Linked DNA regions of Homo sapiens. The protein of the gene in region 1 interacts with the protein of each later gene in a biochemical or structural test. Each region holds a gene or a part of one and is shown on either strand. Other genes may lie near its edges.

Region 1 (7,804 bases):
AAGCACTTTGCGAATTGTGGCATTCCCTCATAATGCAAAGGGTTTTAGAACTGATGGATTAAAGGCATCCAAAGACCTAGTGAAATCATTCTCAGCTTTTTTTTTTTTTTTTTTTCCTGGCAGCTCCATCATCTTGGGGTTTGTATAGAACTTTCCTTTACTAGAAGTACTGACAGGAAAAATTTTAAAATCATAATATTGTTTATCTTCATTTTGATTTGGGGAACTTCTTGTGTATTTCCCAAGACTGTTGTGCCCTCTATGTAGGAAAAGCATTGGCCAAGGGTGAAAAAAAAAAAAAAAAGTGTGTTCTAACTCCCAGTGCCTGACATTGGGAAAGACACTTCCTCTCTTGAGGCTGCAGTTTCCCAAACTGTTAAATAGAGTTTCTAAGCTAGATGATTTCCCAGGCACCCTTCTAACTCTGAAGTCCTATAAACCTAAATCCCAGATACCGCTTTTATTCAAAGGAATAGCTTGCCTGCATTTTTAACACCGCCTTACTGCACCCCCAGTTGAAAAGAAAACAAGAAAAGATGGGCTAGGGGATCTTGAGTTGCATAACCATCATGCTGTAATCCTTATCCATCTGTAGAGATTTGTCAATCAACAGTGTGGCTGGGGTTTGCTATTCATGAGAGCAGCTTTCCTTGCTGAAAACAAGCTATAAATAAGAAAGAATGGTGAAGGAAAGGAAAGAGCTGAGGATGTGAGGTAAACAGTAGAATATTTGGCTTTTGAAGTTGTTTATGTAGGTAGATAAATATGCAGAGATAAACAGGGACAGGTACAAACCCATAGGGATGAAGAGTATAAACATCGATTTCATCAACAGGCACCCACTGGCTCAGCTAAAAATAAGTGCCTCATTACAGGAGCAGACACAGAAAGTCATTCACTCACACACCTCTTCCTGGATGACAATGATTTACAGACAAGTTCCAGGAATATATCTCAATGAATGTGAAAATTCTGACCCTCGCCTATTACAGGCTGAAACAGACAGATGCTAAGTCAGGCTGTATGTAACTTACACAGACATGCCATCAGGTATACAAACACACACCGCCACTTGCAGCCACACATGGATGGATGTGCACAGTCAAACATATGCACAGTCAAACATAATATGGATCATGACAATGAGACAGACGTGTAACCTACATTTATCACCAACCACCTCTATGTCTCAGAGAGAGAGAAACTGAGGCTCAGGAAGAGAAAATAACTCACTGGAGGTCACATAGCAAGCTGGCGTCTGAGCCAAACTTCCACGTGTTTGGAGCCATTTTGATATTCACCTTGCCTTCCCCCCCAATCCCCATTTGTTCAGTTTGGAAACACACTTATGCACACAAGCCCCATGGATACTAAGTGGTGAGCAGCACTTTGTCTCTCCCGTTGGCTGGCCTGCAATGCCTATTCCAGCCCACGTGGCTTTGTCATTAGGCCCAAAGGCCCTGCATGATGTGCCTGTAGGCGGCTGCTCCCTTGCTTCTAGCTGGCTCCCTCCCAAACGTCAGTTTCAAAGGAGAGAAGGGAAAACCAGCCTTGAGCTTTCAGCAACCCTGAGGACCTTGTTTCTACAGCACAGACCCTGATGCCTCCCTCCCTCCCTCCCTCCCTCCCAACCTCAATCCTGAACCCAGGGACAGCTGGGCTGTGCAGGGCCAGGGCCAGCAAGTAGTGACTTGACGGAATTATTTAGAGAAACAGCCTCTCCTCAACTGGCAGCTTAGACAGGAAATCATCTCTGCTCTCACCCATCAAGCTATAGAACTTTATGTCTGCAAGGAAAACATGAACATAGACAACAATTGTTGTCAGAGCTGGTTTCTTTCAGAAACTTGGTATTAACTTCTCTCATCTGGGGATCACTCTGGGTCATCTTGATGTTAGTCATGGCATTAGGATTTCAGACCTATCAGATAAAAAAAGCAAAGCAAACATCTGGATGTTTTTGAACATCTGGAAATTTGGCTTAGACACCAGCTTGCCGTGTGACCTCCAGTGAGGTATTTTCCTTCTCTAAGCCTCAATTTCTCTACCTCTACAATAAGAGGCAGCACACAGAGGTTTCATGTGGCCTGACAACATCACTAATTCATCGGTAGTGGCTGTCAGAAGAACTGTGTTCAGGATTCTGATGACTCTCTAAGCTTTAGGAGAAGAGGTCAAGCGATTGATTAGTAATGTCTGCCACATGTGCAGGAGGGGTAGGTGGAGGCCACGTGTTTGTCACATATGCCACATATTTGCTATCTTTGGGATCTCGGAGGCTTTTCCAGATGCAATAGCCTGGACACTTTGATGTTATTTCTCATCCTTTCATTTGTGGTCACCACAATGCAGCAGCGGTGCCCTAGAGGGAGCCAAGGATGAAGCCTGAAGCTCCACCCCAGCCTCTGCTAGCCACAGTGAAATGTGGCATCTCAGATGTCTTTATGGAATCTCGGGCTGATTCCAGCCCCAAACTCTGGAGCCACCTCTGAGTTGCCCCAGAAGCTCTCCAGTCCTAAGTTTTAGCTACCACACCTTAAAAGTTTCCTTTAGCGTCTTTCCTTCCAGCAGGAAATAGAAGTGGAAGCAGGGAGTCAAGGGGCAAGTGGAGAGAGGTAAGGCTCTAAAAAGCTTCTGCCCAAGTTGATCCGGAAAATCAGAGCTGAAAAGAACCTAAAGGACCACCTTGCCTAAGGGTTCCATATTGTGTTCCTAGGAGAAAGTACAGATGTTCCAAGGTATCTTAGGGAATGTCCCTGTGTGTAGGACTCCCACTCCTCAGCTCCACTCCACTTTTATCTGCTTTTCTTTTTTGTGGATTTTTTTGAGAGGGAGTTTCACTCTTGTTGCCCAGGCGAGAGTGCAATGGCACAATCTTGGCTCACTGCAACCTCTGCCTCCCAGGTTCAAGTGACTCTCCTGCCTCAGCCTCCCGAGTTGCTGGGATTTTAGGCGCCCGCCACCATGCCCGGCTAATTTTTTGTATTTTTAGTAGAGACGGGGTTTCATCATGTTGGCCAGGCTGGTCTCGAACTGCTGACCTCAGGTGATCTACCCTCCTTGGCCTCCCAAAGTGCTGGGATTACAGGCGTGAGCCATTGCGCCCAGCCTGCTCTTGTTTTTTAATTTCACACTTATTGATTAACTAGATAATACTCATTCACATGGTTCAGTACATGCTAAAAGATTTCAGCTGTTTGAAATATCGGACTCTGCAGAAGACTTCATTGAAATAAAGGATTTTCTGGCTTACATAATTTTGAGCACTGACCTTATACAGACAAGCTGGGGGTGTTAGTTCTGGAGAGCAGAGGAGACTCCCCTGAATTCGCACAGTGAGCTGGGAGACATGCTGACTTGCTCTCAGCTCTCCTGACTTCCACGTCATGAGGCCACCTCTGAGCTGCTGTGTCTGCTCCCAGGGGTGTGAGCAGGAGTGCCATTGTAGCTGCATGTGGCCACCTCTCTGGCCTGCCTGGCTCGGTCCCCATGTCAGCAGACCCCAGGCTCCTTCCGAGTCCCAACTCCCTGGAGGGCCTGGCTCTTGGCTTCCTTTATTAGCCTCTAGGCTTGTTTTCCTCTCTTTGGGCTTGTTTACCAGCAACATGTGTTTTTGGAGCCCTTGTTTCCAAGCCAAATAGTGAGAGTGAGATGCTTGGCTGGTATCAGCTGCCCAAGTAAGAGGCCAGCCCTGGGCCTGGTCTTCGTCACTGTATCCTCTGGAGGCTGGACTTACCCAGACCAACAGGGGCAATATGTCCTTTGTTCCACCCAAACACCCCTTTCTCCCTGGGCTTATAAAGCACTGGAATTTTGCACTGAATTCTTTCGGGGGATGGAGATTCTGGGAACCTCGGACTTTATAAGATGCTCTTCCCAACGACAACATTGCTTACCTCTTTATTTGGATTCTCTTGTGTAAATCACCCATGAGCCTTTAAAGATTGGTATGTTATTGTTTCCATTTTACACATTGGGGAACAAATTGAGGCCCCAAGAGGTAAAGTTGATTTCTAAAGGTCATACAATTACTAAGTGGTGAGCCAGGATTTGAACCTGTATATTCTGGCTCCAGAGCCTATGAGCTTACCTTTATGCTATACTGCCTCATAGTTTATTATCACTCTGTCTACCATGGTAGCCACTAGCCACATGTGGCTATTTAGATTTAAGTTGATTAAAATAGATGGGCATGGTGGCTCACGCCTATAATCCCACCTCTTTGGGAGGCTGAGGCGGGCGGATGGCTTGAGGTCAGGAGTTCGAGACCAGCCTGGGCAACATAATGAAGCCCCATCTCTACAAAAAAGAAAAGAAAAGAAAAATTCGCTGGGTGTAGTCACAAGTGCCTGTGATCTCAGCTACTCGGGAGGCTGAGATGGGAGAATCACTTGAGCCCAGGAGGCAGAGGTTGCAGTGAGCTGAGATTGCGCCAACCACACTCCAGTCTGGGTGACAGAGGGAGACCGTGTCTCAAAAAAAAAAAAAAAAAAAAAAAAAAAAGATGTTTTCCACTATTCTCTATTGCAGTATTTCAACAAGGTATGGGTTAAGTAAGATATTTTGGATTGGCCTCAGTCCTTTTGCATAAAATTTTTAAATAAAAAAATTGGTTAAAATGAAATACAATTTAAAACTCAGTTCTTCATTTGCACTGGCAACATTTCAAGCATTCAGTAACCACTTGTAACCAGTAGCTATCATAGTGGACCACGTAGATATAGAATGTGTTCATCATCTTGGGAAGTCCTGTTGGGTTGCATTACTCCATAAGTTCTTTCCACCCAAATAAGATTTAATGATGGCAACTCAGTTTCTTTGCTTCACATCCTAAGTCTATCATTCTGAGACCCACAGTCCATGATTCTATGATTCTGAGGTATCCCCCCTGTTCTAACGTTCAGTGGCTTTTTAACGTCCAAGGAGAGCCCAAAGGAGGCCCTTTATGTTTTGAGGGACAAACCTGGGGGCTGGCTGTACTTTTCCATCCTCAGAGTCTTTCCAGAGAGAGAAGTGACCTCAGCTTCAGGTCCTGCTGGCAGCCAAGGACGGGTTTTCAGCAGTCTCCAGAGCAAATAAAGGCAAAAGGAAGGGACTCGATGTACGGAACAGGAGGCAGTGGCGGCTGGGAGGGGGCTAAAACTGTCTGCATTTGATGGCCACCATGCCAAGGGAAATATGCCTTCTCTTCCTCCCCTGGCCCTGGGCATTTTCCTTCCCAGGAACTCAGGCCAGTTCAAGGCCCAACTGAGCCCCATTCAGGTGACCACCTGGGAGCGGGTAGCTGCCAAGGGAAATAGTGTGCAGAGGTAGAGACATACCAGTGGTGGGGTAGGGTTGCACGGGTTCTCACCCTAGCCCTGCCACCCAGTCACTCACTCACTGCTGTTAGCCGTTGGCAGTTTTCTCCTTTCCTCTAGGCCTTGGTCTTCTCATCTGTACTATTGGGCAGAAATATGTGACTTGAGCCCCCAGTGGGGTGCTGGATTATGAAAACACCCTGAAAATGATAAATGTATGCATCATCACAGACTAAAGAAATACAAAGGAGGGAGTTTTTGTTTAATATTGGTCATTTATATGAAGGGAATTTAAATTTTCGCCAGGCACGCTACACCTAGGTTTGATTGGCAAAGGATCACAGCTGTGAGTTCTGAATGCTGGGGTTTGATACTGTGTTCTGACCTTGCTGGGGTGACTGTTATACTCCATTAGCTTTGCAGGATGGACACAGGGCTCTTTGGTCAGTGGTAGTTTAGAGAGCCTCAGAGAGGTATCTCGTGGGGAGGCAGGGAGATGGCTGTGCATCTGGAATAGTTCAGCCGCTTCCCTTCCCTCCCATCTCATCATCTGGGGGAAAAGTGCTCTTGGACTGGTGGTGTAGCACCGGGTGCTGGGCAGGACCCAGATTTTGTGTTTGTGTTTACAGTTTTCTTCCAAAACTTTTAAGGTGTATTCCAAGATTTTGCGTTCTGTTCTTAACAGTCTCTCTGCATTTCTCCCCCACTCCCACTTGTCTGAGCGTAATTCCTATTAGGCTCACCCCAACTCCATGAGTGAGAACGCTTGCCTATTTGGAGAGGGCCTGAATTGTTGCATGACTTTGGACAAGTGCTTCCTCCCTCTCAACCTCAGATTCCCCATTAGGACAGTGGGACTAAGAACCCTTCCATGCCTGTCTGCCTACTTCCCAGCATTGTCAGAAGGCTCTAGGAGACAGTGTTATGTGACAGTGCTTTAGAAACTATGAAGCAGCACTATAAGACTTAGAGTTATTTTTCTCTTCTGGCTGCAACAGCAGGGATGGGGGTGGCAGGGAGGGTGAGTGTGCAGCTGGAAAAGGAATTCAGGAAGATGAGGAGGCAGGACAGACAGAAGAGCCGCCCAGCGAAACCTTCCCCTGGTCACAGAGGGGAGCGCGGTTACTCTGCTCATATGAAGGACGCAGACTCAGGGAAATGTCTGTCTTCCTGTCTTTCTAATCTGAAGCTTACTACATTTCCAGTCCTAGCTGGGCTATTTCTTCAATAACATGACTTCCCTGTCATTATAGCTCAGACAGGGTAACTTTTTGTTTTGTTTTGTTTTAGCTGCTATTTCACTTTGATCCTTCAACCTCAAACTATCTCAGACAAGTCCTTCCTTGATGTTTTCTTTTCTGTTCCATTTGTCCCAAGCCACATGCAGGAGTTATTTATCTTGCGTCTTCCAAAAGGGGAAGCAAGAAGGGAGATTTTTCCACTTAAGCCTGGGGAACAAGTGAACAACTGTGTGAGGGGAGGAACATTCCACAAGCTGCCTCAAAAGGGAAGACTAGACTCCTCTGGAAGTTGGGGTTATTGTGAAGCAATACCAAACCCCCAGGTCCTTTACATTTCTGTTAGTTTTACTTCATTCACTCTGTGCAATAGGGGGTGAGGTTTTGTGTCTCTTTAAGCCCAAGAAAGGACCATTATGAAGTGGGCTCTTCCTCTGCCTGTTTCTGCTTCCCAAATGCTATAGTACAAGTGAAGACATATGATCCCAGAGGAGACCATATGTGTCAAGACCAGAATGTGCTTGGGGTGTCTTAAGAGCATTTTAAGGACCGAGGCTGCCACTTCAAAGTTCACCTAGTCTACCCATTTCAATTGATAGATGGGGGAACCAAGGTCTAGAGAGACCAAAAGACTTGATACTACTGTGGTAGAACAAGACCCCCTGGCATTTAATTTCAAGCTGAGTATTTTTCTCCATGATGCCGGGTTACCTCCCACCACCATTTGGTCAGTTGAGAAGTCTTGGAAGAAATAAGGGATGATGAGCCTGACAGGGAGGTTTTGGGAGAAGAAAGAGGGAAGACATGGCCACTGTTGCTCCTGATGGAAGGTTATTTGTGGGTAGAGAGAGCAGGTTTGTTCTTTGTGGCTGCAGGGGAGATGGGGTAGACAGATCAGAAAGTTTGAGGGAGGCACATTTAGATCAGTAAAAGAAAGAACTTTCTAAAGTCACTTGAGAATGAAAAGCCATTTAGTTAGTGCAAGAAATGAAATGTCTCCACCACAGAGCCTCTGTTAGGAATAGCATTTTAGTTTTGAATCCTCAGAGGAGATACTGCTCCAAAATCCCTTATAGTCATGAGAGTATTAGAGTCTAGAGCTTGGCATTTAGAGAATGAGGCCTTAACAGTTACCAGAACAGAGGTATTTTCTAGATCTCAGCTAACATCCCCTCTGCAACACATGGAAGCATCTGGATGGTTTCCGTACAGGACCTAAAGAAGTGCTGTCTCTTCTGGGTAGAATGGAGAAAAATGTGGCCACCC
Region 2 (7,000 bases), on another chromosome or scaffold:
AGTGGTGGGAAGGCAGAGGACCCGAGAAAAGTCCCCCCAGGGGCCCCTCTGTCCCGCGCCTGTCATCGCACCTGCACCCACCCACTGTGCAGAGCCCATGGGCAACGGGCCGGCTCTCCCCACACCCAGGCTTGCCTGTCACCCCCACAACAGGCCCCAGTGACTGACCTAATTGTGTGCTGAGGATGCAGATGGCTGGGCCTCTGTCCTCCAGAAGAAAGACGAAACTACAGCTGGAAAAGCTGAGACCACCGTGCTCTCTGGTGTACATTTTTATTTTTATTTTCATTTTTTTTTAGACAGGGTCTCACTCTGTCACCCAGGCTACAGTGCAGTGGCACAAACACAGCTCACTGCAGCCTCAGCCTCCCTGGCTCAAGTGATCCTCCCACCTCAGCCTCTCAAGTAGCTGGGACCACAAGCACGAACCACCACACCTGGCTAATTGTTTCTGAAATTTCTGTAGAGGTGGTGCCCAGTAATGGTATTGTTGGGTCAAATGGTGTTTCTGGTTCTAGATCCTGGAGGAATCGCCACACTGTTTTTATGTCATTTTATGGCATTTATTTAAAAAATAAAGAGGCCACCAGATGGTGCCCAGGCTTGATGTGCATTTTTATGCATCTGAAAGGAAGAAGAAGAAACCGAGGCAGAGGCTTCAGGTACGCACTGTTGCCTGGGGCCATGGCTCCCCTTCTGAAGCACTGGGACCCAGCTGCCATGGAGGCTGGCGCCAGCAAACAAACAGGAGGGAGCGGAGCCACGCCGCCCTCACCTGGCCTTGAGAATGGACAGAGGCTGCTTGCGTCCATGCATGTGACTGTACGGACCTGCACCAACATGCAGGCCGTGTGACCACTGGGACGTGGAGGGTGGTTTTCATCCCCTTGTGCCAGCTGGACTCAAGGAGCTAGACTGGCACATCTGCAGAATGGGCCGATCCCACCTGGCACGAAGGGCGGGTTTGAGGATCACAGGTGCTGACGGGAGCACCCTCAGAGCAGGGTCCAGTGTAAATATGAAAATATGAACAAGAGCCAGAGGAAGAACATGCACGGGAACGTGCCCTCTGCATCCACCAATGGGAGCCTGCCTTCAGGCGCATGCATCCCAAAGGGCTGGCCCTGGAGAAGCAGGCTGGTCTCTGACTGGCCACCGCCCCATGGGGCTGGCAGGTGCCTCCCTAGACTGGCCTTGGCCACACCCTACTCCCACTTCTACTGCACCTCACTGGGTAAAACCACCTGTTCAGATGGCTGACTCCCCCGCCGCAGCGGAAGACCCAGTAGGGCACAGACGGCTCGCCTATCGCTCACCTGTGCCCCCCGCACAGGTCCGTCTCATGTTAGGGGTCCATAAATGCTGCCAAGCAAACCTGCTGACACACCCAATGTCTTTGCATATGGACCCCATCTGTTCCCTCTGTACCCACACACGGGAAAGAGTGCTGGTCCCCCAGGCCACCCGCCAGCAGAATGGAAGACGGTCGCTTCCAATGGAAGACGGTTACGATGCTCATGTGTTCTCACTGGGAGATCACTGTTTCCCAATGCAAGGGTCAGAGTTTTTCAACTTAAGTCACTCCTGCTACATACACACATTTAAAAAAATTTTTTTTATTATACTTTAAGTTCTGGGATACATGTACAGAACGCACAGGTTTGTTACACAGGTATACACATGCCATGGTGGTTTGCTGCACCCATTAACCTGTCATCTACATTAGGTATTTCTCCTAATGCTCTCCCTCCCCTAGCCCCCCACCCCCCAACAGGCCCTGGTGCATGATGTTCCCCTCCCTGTGTCCGTGTGTTCTCATTGTTCAACTCCCACTTATGAGTGAGAACATGTGGTGTTTGTGGTTTTCTGTTCTTGTGTTAGTTTGCTGAGAATGATGATTTCCAGCTTCATCCATGTCCCTGCAAAGGACATGAACTATCCTTTTTTTATGGCTGCATAGTATTCCATGATGTATATGTGCCATATTTTCTTTATCCAATCTATCATTGATGGGCATTTGGGTTGGTTGCAAGTCTTTGCTATTGTGAACAGTGCCGCAATAAACATACGTGTGCATTTCTCTTTATAGTAGGATGATTTATAATCCTTTGGGTATATACCCAGTAATGGGATCACCAGGTCAAATGGTATTTCTGGTTCTAGATCCTTGAGGAATCACCACACTGTTTTTATGTCATTTTGTGGCATTTATTTACAGAAAAAAAAGAGGCCACCAGAAACCCTATTGCCGAGGTCCTGGCAAGGAAGAAAAGGACAGAAGAGCTAATTTCCCTACAAGAACACGGGTCTAGGAAACAGAAAATAAAGGAAGCTTCCATTTCATGGGCAGAGACATCTCGGCAAATAGGCTGAGCCCATGTCCCCAGAGCTCTGAGTAATTAAATTTTGAGAAAAGTGGGTCAGGCTGTGGTTCCATTTCTTAGGTCTGAGTCATCAAAGGATGGTGACATTTACTGCTAATATGAGGTTATTACCTAGTTTGAGATTCCTCCAGAAAAACTCCTCTGCTGATAGGAAGCTGAGGGTGTGACGGCTCGGACTATCTGACATGGATAACTCAAAGTGACCCGCACCCCTCCACTGAGCATCCAGCCACCAATTCATTCATTCCACGGTCTTCTCTCCAGTGGCCTGGGGCTGGGCTGGCACAAAAACAACATCTGAGATGGCAAAGCCCCCCCCACACCCCGCCCGCACCAACTTCACCCACCCCTGCCTGGAACACCTCCTTTCAGTGATCAGCCACCACTCACCGCCATCACATCACAGAGACAGAACAGAGGCCTGCAGCTGGGAGGTGCACAGGTCCATCCACCTCCTGGACCTCCGTTCCTTGTAAAGAGCAAGTGGCCAGAGGAGGCAGGGGAGGGCCACTCTGCGGGCTGAACTTGGCCTGGCCCGCGACTGCCCAAGGATGCACCTTCCTGGCTCAGGCTCAGAGCCTCAGAGGCAGCGAGCAGCGAGCGATCCGCTGAACTGACCACTGGTGCTTACTGCCTTACCTTTTCTCCTGCGTACCCAGTGAGGGAAGCAGCAGTGTGACACCACACAGGATGGCAAGGGAGCACGCACAGGCCAGCGAGTAGAGGGCCCCAAACCACCTCACAGCCTCCTGCTGCACTGGGGCCCCTGGTGGCAAGGGCAGTAATGGGGTCTTACTCTGTGCTTTATATGAGTAATACATTAGACATCACTAAAACCCTACTGTAGTTACAGTCACCACCCCCTTCTTACAGATGGGGAAAGTGAGGCACAGGGTGGGAAAATGCACTGCTGGTAGACACTGGAGCCAGGATAGGAATCCAGGAGTCTTGCCGGCTGCCTGTCCTTTGCCAGCAGGCCACCCTGGTCCCTATGCCATGTCCTGGTGGCTGCAGTCCTGCAGTCCTGCCTATGAGCAGAGCTGTATTAGTCAGGGTTCCCTTAGAGGGACAGAACTAATAGGAATAGAAATAATAGAAATATATATATATATATTATATATATATATATAGGAGTTTATTAAGTACTGACTTACACAATCACAAGGTCCCACCACAATAGGCTGTCTGCAAGCTGAGCAGCAAGGAGAGCAAGTCCGAGTCCCAAACCTGAAGAACTTGGAGTCCGATGTTCGAGGGCAGGAAGCGTCCAGCACAGGAGAAAGATGTAGGCTGGGAGGCTGGGCCAGTCTCGTCTCTTCATGTTTTTCTGCCTGCTCTACACCTGCTAGCGGCTGATTAGATTGTGCCCTCCCGATTAACGGTGGGTCTGCCTTCCCCAGCCCACTGATTCAAATGTTAATCTCCTTTGGCAACACTCTCATAGACACACGCAGGATTAATACTTGTATCCTTCAATCCAATCAAATTGACACTCAGTAGTAACCACCACAAGGGCCGCTGTGGGCTCCGCCTGCAGGATCGAGGCACATCCACCAGCCAGGCCAGAAACTTTAAAACCGACACTTGGCAAAGCACTGAGAGAGAGCAGACGAGTCAATTATATGGGAGAATGTAAATAGAGGAGAAGCGGGAGCCATAATGTAACATCGCCCTCCCGGGAGTTTAAAAAGACATGAAATTGTCGGATCCAGCTGGACCCGGCTTGCCCTGCGGCAGAACCCACAGCCTCACGCTCAACCGGCAGGTTCCACGTGCCATCTCCTCCTCTCCCGTCCAGCTGGGGCCGGGTCACGGTAAGGAGAGAAACGTCGCCCTGCCACGAGCTCCTCAAACACACCAGGCCCTGCACGTGGAGTCAGCCAGGGACACCCATGTGAACGCAGGTACATGTGCAAGGATGCGCATGCGTGCACACTCAAACACACATGTATACCCACAAACACATGTGTGCAGGCAGATCGCGGGGAGATATACACATTGTCCACACGTGCACACGGCCTGACACACACACACACACACGCACACATGACACACATACACACAAACGCACACATGAGTGCAAACCCTGGAATTGGCTTCTAAAGCTTTTCACATGCATCACACCCCACGGCCTGGACAATGACCCCATGAGGTTCCGTGGGAAAGCAAAGAACCGAGGCCAAGGAAGGCAAAGGGGCAGCAGAGACCGGCTAAGCGGGCAACAGCAGAGCCCCAGGGGTCTCAGCAGGGCCAGGCCCCACACAGGCACACCTCCCTCGCCTGTGCTTCTGGGAGCTAAAGAGGGCTGTGGGAACACTGCTCTTTCCTCCTGCAAAACCACCACTGAAGATGGGGGCGATGGTAACGTCCCCACACAGCCAGTGCCGAGTACAGGTCAGGCAGCCTGCAAAGCTTCTCACAGGTGTGGCCTCAATCGATCTTCACAACCATGCCTCAAAGCAAGAAATGTGGTTCTCCCCATGTTCACGAGGGGAAGCTGAGGTGCAGTGACTTGTCCTCGCCCAGCCCATCCGACAGCCCCTCAGAGGCAGGGAAACTCAGCTCCAGCCTCACACCGACCTTGCTGGCCTGGAGTTCAGTAATCTGATTGCCAAGGAATGTCCCCTCCCACATCCGACCACCTGTCACCCAGCACAGGTACCCAAAATCACCCCCAGAGGCCCCCACATCCTAATCCACAGCTGTGGAGCTGTCTGCAGAGCTGTGCAGACTGGGCTCACTGTGCCAGGCCAGCAGGGCTCGTCAAAGGGAAACAGGAGGAACGGGGGCAGAGAAAGGGTTAAGGAAGCTGCCAGGATCTGCCACTTCCCTTAGGGGCACTTGTATTCTCCTGGCAAACAGATACTGGGAGCACCTGCCAAGCCCGTGAATGAGGGGCTTTCCAGCCAAGGGAGCCGCCCAGGAGAGCTCTGGGACACGGTGTGGAATGTCCTGTCAGAAGGAGGGAAGAGAGCAAGATTAAAGCCAGAGGTGGAGGAGGACCCCACGAAGGAGGGTCATTTCTGCAATAAAAGGAAGGAGAAGAGAAGGAGGGAAGGCCAGTTTCACATCACCTCCTCCAGGAAGCTCCCCAGCTCTCCCCAGTGCAATTAACCCTCCCAGACTGTCGGATGCAAGACCCAGCACATCCCATGGAGGGCCCTGAGTAAAATTCACAATGGTCTGCCTGTCAGACTGTGAGCTCCTGGAAGGAAACGAGGGGTCCCATCCCATTTGCCTCGGTCTCCCCAAGATAGGCCCGACCCAGGTGAAAAGGCAAAAGCCTTCAGGGTCCAGGCAGGTTATGCTGATGTGCAGAGAGGCCTGGGAAGTGGTGGAGACTGTGGCTGCTGCATCCCTCTTGAAGGCACTGGAGTAAAAAGAGAAGGGATGGAGGGACAAAGGGAAGGAAGGAAGGGGATGGGAGAGAGGGAGGGAGGAAGAGAGGGAGGAAAGAAGGAAGGAGGGAAGGATGGAGGGGGAAGGAGAAAGAAAGGAACTTAAAAGCTGTGTTGGCCAAATGGAATGGCTCTGCTCCCAGGACCCTGTTTGGACTGGGCCCCCAGGCCAGGACTATAGCTCAGGGCCCTGGCCTTCTCCCCGGGGAGAGCTGATAAACCGATGGGAAGTGAGAAGAGGGAACTGTGACAAGTCAAAGAGTGACCATGCCAGGCGAAGGGCCGTTGCTGGCTTAGGGCCCCACAGCAGGAATGGAAGACATCTGCCTGGCATCCCTGCCCCCTGACTCCTAGGCTCTGTCCCTTCTCAGGCCCGGGTGAGGGTGCAGTGAGATGGTGCAGCTGATGCTCACCACAGGCCAGGCAAGTGCCAGCCCCTCCATTCCCATGTGTGATTGTCTCCCAAGGCCATTCCCAGAGCCACGTCACGTGACCGAGCAGGGACAGGTCCTGCACTGTTCCAGATGCAGCTTGGCTCAGGCTCCTATGTGGGTGCCCTCGGGAAGTGTTGGGGACTCATCCTCGCCCTCCAGCGGGGCAGCTCACTGCTCTGCACAGCCCCTACTCCACCTATCAAGGTCTATCTCCCAGGAGGTGGGATGGGGCGGTCCAGGGAGGAGGCAGGGCAGGCAGACAGGCCAGGCAGCGAGAAGGCAGGGCGGGACGGGCAGCACCAGCTGTGTTCGGCTGAGGCGTGGCGGTGGGGAGTCCAGAAATATCTGCAGGGCGGGGTGAAGAGCAGGCTCTGGCCAGCCCCGCAGGAGCAGCCCAGGAGTAACATCACTGGAGAAACCACTGTGAGCCTGGCACTGGGAGCACGCCCCTGCCTGGGGCTGCCGCACTGCTGGGTGGGCACAGCCCTGGGTAGCAACCAAAACTCCAACCCCTCCGGCAAATCTGGACCACAGCAGGGAGAGGGCTTGGGGAATTCTTGGGGCTTCTGAGCTCCTCCCACTCACTGCTCTTTTATGGGGAGAGGGAGGGAGGGGGCAGAGGATGGAAAAGGATGTCTTTCCAGCCAACTTGATTGAGTCAGAGGAAATTTAACCATTTGATACCTGTCAAGTCTCACAAAACTTGGCCGACTCTCCCCACAAATTATTGCAAAAAGCAATCACGTGACTGGAGTCAACCAATGGCGTGTAGAGGAGATGACCT

The links.
Region 2: the proteins of SPARC (region 1) and COL5A1 form a complex in vitro, tested with the Homo sapiens proteins (one study listed by BioGRID).

Annotation. Positions count from the first base shown.
Region 1 is NC_000005.10:151,676,916-151,684,719, reverse strand, and holds part of SPARC (SPARC isoform 1 precursor), read left to right. Parts: intron 1-4,963; exon of another isoform or gene 4,964-5,064; intron 5,065-5,383; exon of another isoform or gene 5,384-5,500; intron 5,501-7,672; exon of another isoform or gene 7,673-7,775; intron 7,776-7,804.
Region 2 is NC_000009.12:134,644,803-134,651,802, reverse strand, and holds part of COL5A1 (collagen alpha-1(V) chain isoform 1 preproprotein), read right to left. Parts: intron 3,750-7,000; exon of another isoform or gene 3,539-3,749; intron 3,413-3,538; exon of another isoform or gene 1,597-3,412; intron 1-1,596. UniProt on the Homo sapiens protein: Type V collagen is a member of group I collagen (fibrillar forming collagen). It is a minor connective tissue component of nearly ubiquitous distribution. Type V collagen binds to DNA, heparan sulfate, thrombospondin, heparin, and insulin.